2 linked regions of the Homo sapiens genome follow. The protein of the gene in region 2 purifies or fractionates together with the protein of the main gene of each other region. This does not show direct contact. Each region holds a gene or a part of one and is shown on either strand. Other genes may lie near its edges.

Evidence for each region. Proteins that work in one complex are often made in the same cells at the same time.
Region 1: the proteins of ASIC1 (region 2) and ODR4 purify together in Homo sapiens (affinity purification with mass spectrometry; one large-scale study listed by BioGRID and IntAct). This does not show direct contact.

The regions. Positions count from the first base shown.
Region 1 is NC_000001.11:186,389,338-186,392,837, reverse strand, and holds part of ODR4 (protein odr-4 homolog), read right to left. Parts: intron 3,251-3,500; coding exon 3,214-3,250; intron 2,128-3,213; coding exon 1,987-2,127; intron 1,143-1,986; coding exon 1,047-1,142; intron 1-1,046. UniProt on the Homo sapiens protein: May play a role in the trafficking of a subset of G-protein coupled receptors.
Region 2 is NC_000012.12:50,060,596-50,064,095, reverse strand, and holds part of ASIC1 (acid-sensing ion channel 1), read right to left. Parts: intron 1-3,500. UniProt on the Homo sapiens protein: Forms voltage-independent, pH-gated trimeric sodium channels that act as postsynaptic excitatory receptors in the nervous system, playing a crucial role in regulating synaptic plasticity, learning, and memory.

The sequences.
Region 1 (3,500 bases), on a different chromosome or scaffold from region 2:
AGAGACAGGGTTTCACCATGCTGACCAGGCTGGTCTTGAACTCCTGACCTCAAGTGATCTGCCCACCTTGGCCCCTCAAAGTGCTGGGATTACAGGCATGAGCCACCACGCCTGGCCCCTGCCTCCCAAGTAGCTGCAATTACAGGCACCTGCCACCAATGCCCAGCTAACTTTTGTATTTTTAGTAGACACAGGGTTTCACCATGTTGACCAGGCTGGTCTCAAACTCCTGACCTCAAGTGACCCACCCACCTCGGCCCCCCAAAGTGCTGGGATTACAGACATGAGCCACCATGCCTGGCCCCTGCATTCGTTTTCTAAGGATAAAGGCCTCCAGCTCCATCCATGTTCCTGCAAAGGACATGATCTCGTTCTGTTTTAATGGCTGCACAGTATTCCATGGTGTATATGTACCACATTTTCATTATCTAGTCTGTCATTGATGGGCATTTAGGTTGATTCCATGTCTTTGCTATTGTGAATAGTGCTGCAATGAACATAATGCATGCATGTGTCTTTACAATAAAACAATTTATATTCCTTTGAGGGTATAGCCAGTAATAGGATTGCTGGGTCAAATGGTATCTCTGTTTTTAGGTCTTTGAGGAATCAACACACTGCCTTCCACAATGGTTGAACTTATTTATACTCCCACCAACGGTTTATAAGCATTCCTTTTTCTCTGCAGCCTTGCCAGCATCTGTTATTTTTTGACTTTTTAATAACAGCGATTCTGACTGGTGTGAGATGGTATCTCATTGTGGTTTTCATTTGTGTTTCTCTACCGATAGTAATGCTGAGTTTTTTTTCATACGATTCTTGGCTGCATGTATGTCTTCTTTTGAAAAGTGTCTGTTCATATCCTCTGCCTACTTTTTAATGAGGTTGTTTTTCTAAGAAAAACATTTGCCTTTTACTTTAAATCAGAAATCAGAAATGAGAGGTAGATGAAATCAGTTTTCTTGTAGGCAAGGACTAAAAATAAGTCATGTTTTATTTTTCCTTAAGCACTAACAATTTAATAAGATGATTTTCTCTTAACTTACCTGTCCTTCTAATAGGTCACAATCTTCATCTTTAACTTGTCCATTAATCAAATAAACACCATTTTCTATTTCCTTGGCCCAGCGTGTAAGTCCATTCTTAACAGAAACACAACATGGAAATCTTTCAGATACAATGCCATCTCAATTAAACTTCCTATAATCTACTTTGTTCCACCTAATAAATTGAAATATTAAAATCCCTAAATCTCATTACTGCAGCATTTAAATCTAGTTTCACAAATTAAAAAAAAGTATACCCCCATTCTTGATACCTTATTATATTTAATAATAGTTATTTTCTGATCTTTATCCCAGAATAACATTTATGTCACAGACTCAGGAGGTTATTAAGTACATGATCAGTTAAATAAAATTTAATGCCCACTACCTTAAAAAAAAAAGTGAGAAAAAAGCATCAAATAAGTCTAAAAAATAAAAAAAAAAAGCTCTATTTGACATCTTCAATGGGAAAAATGAAGAAAAATAAGATAAAAATAAAAGAATGGTATAGAAATACAAAAAAGAACTGGAAAAAGGAAGACAAAAAAACCTAAGTACTAAGAGAAAGCTAAAAGTCCAAACAGTATAGCTTCTTACATTAATTACATTTTACATGTTAATTAATGAATACTGTTATATTTAGTTTAATGACAAAGCACATAATAATACTTAATCAGCACATAATAAGTACTAGTATATTTAGTCTAACAACTAAATTATTAGTTATTATTAAACTGAATATACTAGTATTATGACATTGTTCCACTTCTAAAAATTTCTAAAAATTTCTAATTTGGCTGCGGTAATAAGTTACTCACATAACAACATTGTAAGCAGAATGTAATTTTTGAGGATTGTAAAATGAATGACACATGTAAGCAGAATAAAAGCAGATTGTTCACTCAGCAATCACTGAAGAAAATTCATTTTACCCTGGTACCTTTGTATTTTTCTCCAGAGTATAGCTGACAGAAGTAGCAGAAAGTGGGATGTGAATATTAATGTGAACTGTACACTCTAAAGAAAGCCATGAGGATGATAATCCACTTTGATACTTCCAATCTGCTGGTCTTGCTGAACTCTAGCAGTGGAGAAGGGAGAAAAATAACTATGATGTAGTCTAGATAAAATACATGGATCAACAAAACATTATTAAATATACAACCTAAATAACGCATACAAACTCATATCTAACATATATGGCTAAACCCTTGATCAAAAGACTATAGGTTGAACTAAACACAAAATAAAGCATGTGTTAAGTTCAGTACTCTTCAATACATCCTTGGCAATACTTCTCCTCCCAATGGTAGGCAGAAAAAGAATCAGAAATTTCCATGTTTAGAATTCTGAAAGGTCCTTTGATCCTCTAGCTTCAACAGTATCAATACTGAAGATTCTGATCTGAAGCAAATAATCACTGAGCAACTCCTAGGTGGCAGGCATTCTCCTTTCTGTCCCATCCTTGCTAATGACACTGCAAAGTTACTTTTTCACAACCCTTTTAGATGCATTAGCAAAGTGCTAATCTGGGTTTTGCTGAATACACATAGCTTGTTTAATAGGCAGTGCAGCTACCAAAAGTCCTCAGTCACTTTTACTACCAGCCTCTCAAATATAAAACTAAATACACAAACAAGGTAGGAGGAGATTAACAAAGATATTTTAACAATTTTTTAAAAAGTTGGCTGGCCGTGGTGGCTCAAGCCCGTAATCTCAGCACTTTGGGAGGCGAAGACAGGCAGATCACTTGAGCCCAGAAGTTCAAGACAAACATAACTAACATGGTGAAACCCTATCTCTATCAAAAAAAACAAAAAACAAAAAACAAAAATAATTAGCCAGGTGCAGTGGTGCACATCTATAGTCTCAGCTACTCAAGAGGCTGAGGTGGGAGGATCCCTCGAGCCCAAGAGGTGGAGGCTGCAGTGAGCTATGACTGCATCACTGCACTCTAGCTTGGGCAAGAGAGTGAGACCCTGTCACGCACAAAAAAGTTTTCCTTATCTGTAATAAAATTAATCATATTTCAAAATAAAAACTACAGTTGTTTGTAGGCATCAATAGGAAGTGATGGCAATGGAAATTATTAAAACTAAATAAAAGCTGAATTTTGATTGAAAATACTTTGTGACACAGAAAAATCTTTAAAGAGTAAATTTCTTACCTTTGGATCATGGATATCATAAGTTCGACAAAATATTCTTCACTAATTAAGGACAGAAATAACCAAAAAAGGCATTATTGGTAACTAAAAGAATATAAACTATCAAAAAATAAACTAAAAAATGCACGCATCCAAAAGTTCTTACAAAATCATAACACTTTAAAGATATGCGTACATATATGTACATGTGTGCATATATATACATATGTGTATATATAATCATACATACAAACTGCTATCACTATAGTACTTGCGGTGCTTGAAAATCATTTCCTACCTTTTATGAA
Region 2 (3,500 bases):
TGCATGTTCCCCCTTCCCACCCATGAAGACCACCAGGCCTCTGGGTGGGGCTGCCCAAGATTCCCCTTCCCCTGTCTGCATGGCAGTCTGGGCAGCCTTTCCCTTCAGCAGCCCCTCCACTCCCTGCCTAGCTGGAGGGTGCAGACCCCAGTAGTAAGGTCAGGCCCTCCCAAGGGACTTCTGGTCTGAGCTTCTATGGGGCAGCATGGGGTGTGGGGATGAGGGGTGAGCCCTAGGGATGAATAAACTCCATGCTAGTCCTGGCTCTTGCTGGGCACTGCCATCCCTGGCTCTCCTGCTTTAAGATGACTTCTCTCTCCCCACTTTGGGTCCCAGGATCAGGCGCCCACAGCCACCTCTCATTGCAGCATCTTACTTCCCTAGGTGCTCCAGGGGATGCCCGGGCCCCTTCAGAACCTAGCAGTGGATTGCAGGGGAGGCTTCTGTGCTCATCCCCATTCACTCCACCTCTTCCCTGGGAGATTCTGGTCTCCAATCCAGGGTCCTGAGAAGGACTCCTGTGGACCCCTCCCAGGGATTCCTGTCCCCCAATTTCACCCTCCTGAGAGAGATTATGAGTCACACCACATGTCCACCCCAGCATTTCCACTCTGTCCTCCTCTTCCTTCTCTTCCAGGCCCCAGAAATGAATTCCTGCTTCTCTCTCCGCTAGGCAAAGGGTCTAGGTCTCAGCGGAGGAGGGGGTGGCATAGGGCAGACTGGGTGACCATCTGCCAGCCCCCTCCCCTTGCTGCTGCTCAGCATTCTGGCCACATCAGCTGCTCCCACTGCCAGGGACAGATAAGGTGCAGCTGGAGGATGGCACCAGCTGCGACTGTGCTCACTTCTCTGGCCCCCACCCAGACACCAGCAGACAGCTGCACCCCAGCCCCCCTCCATGGAATCCCTGCCCTGCCTTGGCCTGGCTGGCCTCAAGGTGGGGCAGGAGAGAGGAGCCATGGACCCCATTGTCTTGGCAACAACACACCCTACCAGGAAGAAAAGGAGGTGGCCGGGAAGAGGGGGCCTTGTGGTTGGGTCACTGTGGTTGCTCAGGAGGCAGCTATTGAAACCTTCCCAGCCAGGTTGCTGTGGGGATACTCCCTGCCCTGCCCTTCTCCCTCTTCAGTCCCGAAGGATTTCCAAACCAGTCTCTCCCAGATTCAGCTCAGGCTCCCCATATTCACCCCCACCCTCCCAAGCTGACTCAGCCACACCTGGGGGATGGACCCTGGCCAAATGCTTTGTGACCACCAACTATTCCCTGGGGTTGAGCTAGATCCAGGAGCACATCTGGAGAAATGCCTGTTACTGCAGATCCTCATCAGGGGAGCTGGGGTCTTTGAGTGACCAGAGTAGCCTCCCTGAATTGTCTTCTTATGCCTCCCCCAACCAGCCTTGAGAAACAGGGTTCTTATTGTTGAGAAGAGGGTTGCCCTTAGAAATCTACAAAAGAGTCCACACGTGCCCCCGCACGCTATACTTTGCAAAAGCATTGAGCAAGGTCTTGGACAGTGGGGGGTGGTATCCCACAGCAATCCTGTTGGATGGGGCCCAGCAGCTTCTTCCTGAGCTACTGAAAGAGCAAGCAAAGCCCTAACCACAAAGCCTCTCTTCCCTGACTACCTTCTTTCCTCAGTGAAGAACCTCTGCTCTGAAGGCTGCAGAAGATGCCAAGATGGTCTCCCTTAGATCGACCCTATAGACAGGTGTTTCCTGTCAGTGCTACATCTGCCCAGGGCTAGAGACACACTCCCAACACACCTCTTGGCCTAGCAGAGAATGGCAAGGATGTTAATCACAAGACTGAGGAGAGAAGGGAGAGCATGGAGTATCAGGCAAGGAGTGTGGGAGCCCTTAGGACTGGGGAGCTGGAGGAGAGAGACTGCCAGGCCCTTCTCCACCGGGGAGGTGTCAGACATGGACTCCAGCCAGACGCCCATCTGTGTGGGAACATCCCTATGGGTAGAGCTCTTGACATGGAGAGGGGCTGGCAATGAAACCAACTGAAGAGAGCAGAGGGAGGAGTGAGAGGTTTGAGTCCAGCAAAATTCAGGGTCAGGTCTTTGACATGGGCTGCAAAACAGCAAAAACCTGGTCTTCCCTGACAACCCAGAAGCAAGAAGGGGCACAGCTGGGGCTGCAGGGTGCTAGCCTGTGTGTCTTTACCCCTGAGTAAGAGGAATAATTCAGACTGCTCCAGAACTTTGTGAGCCAATCACATCTCCATCTGACTACTTAGAATGGTCCCCTCAGACAGCATGGACCAATCACATCTCAGTGTCTCCATTACCATCAACCAAATGTTATCTTAGCATCACCACTTGGAATCTTTCTGGACATGATGGACAGATGGAGCCTCAACTGAATACTTTCTATGGACTAACTGTGCCCAAATTTATATCTTAGCACCTCCTCAGATTGAGCCAAGCACTTCTCTCCCTCATCCAACACTACAAACCACTCAAACAAATACGTTTTCTCCATCTTTCTCACGGGTCCCTCCTGCTTGTGTGTTGGGTGTGTTGGAGGGAGGCGGCTCTGGCTTTTGCTTCCACCTTCACCTACAGTCCTGTTACTCTTGGGAGCATCACTTGTGAGACTGCAAACCCTCTGGTCTCAAGCTCTGGGGAATCCAGGACTCTCCTGTTATGAAGCAGTAAGAGAGGGAAGGAAGTGGTTCTTGCATCTTGGCTAAGCTCCCCATCAGCTTGGCTCAGCAAAGAGTGCAGTCATGTGAACTTTGTCCAGCAGGATTGACAAAGGCCAGTGAAACTGGTCTGCAGAGCAAGGCTTAAGGATATTGGGAGGTCTTGCACAGCTAGAAACACTAAGCATGACTATGGTGCCATCCTTTCTGCACAAATACAGTTCATATTCCCATACTGCAGGAGGAAGCAAGCAAGCGGGGAGAAAATAGGCAGGAAGAAGGAAGAGAATCCAAGAGCTGAGTAGGCATGGAGAGCAAAGGGTCCTGGAAAAGACTGGCAAGAATTTGAAGTGGACACAATAACCCCAGGGTCCACAATATTAATTAAAAGAGTAAAGGACATTTTCAGCTTAACAAGACATGAGTTCTAATCCTGAACCTGTCACCTGTCACTAACTGTGTGAGCTTGGGTAAATCATTCTGCCTGTGTCTCAGTTTCGTGCATTTGTAAAACAGAGGTAATGTGATTATGTATCAAGGGGATTGAGGGGAGCCTAGAAAGCATTTGAAAGAGTTACAAGCATTGTCCATTCATTTGGTGTTATTGTTCCTGCATGGCTCTGGAGCCTCTGGTCTCTTTGCCATCTGGGTCCAGGTCTTAACCCTCAGGAATCTGTGTGACTTGCCCAGGGTTGCCCAGCACATCAGATGCCAAAATCAGTTTCCCTATGCCCTCCCTGAGGTGCTGGCCTGAGGCAGCCACATCTGTGGGGCATCTCCATTTTAAGATGCAAAGGAAGCCTCCAGGGCAGCCATGACTGGGTGTCCCGATGGCCTTCCTTTCCTCAGA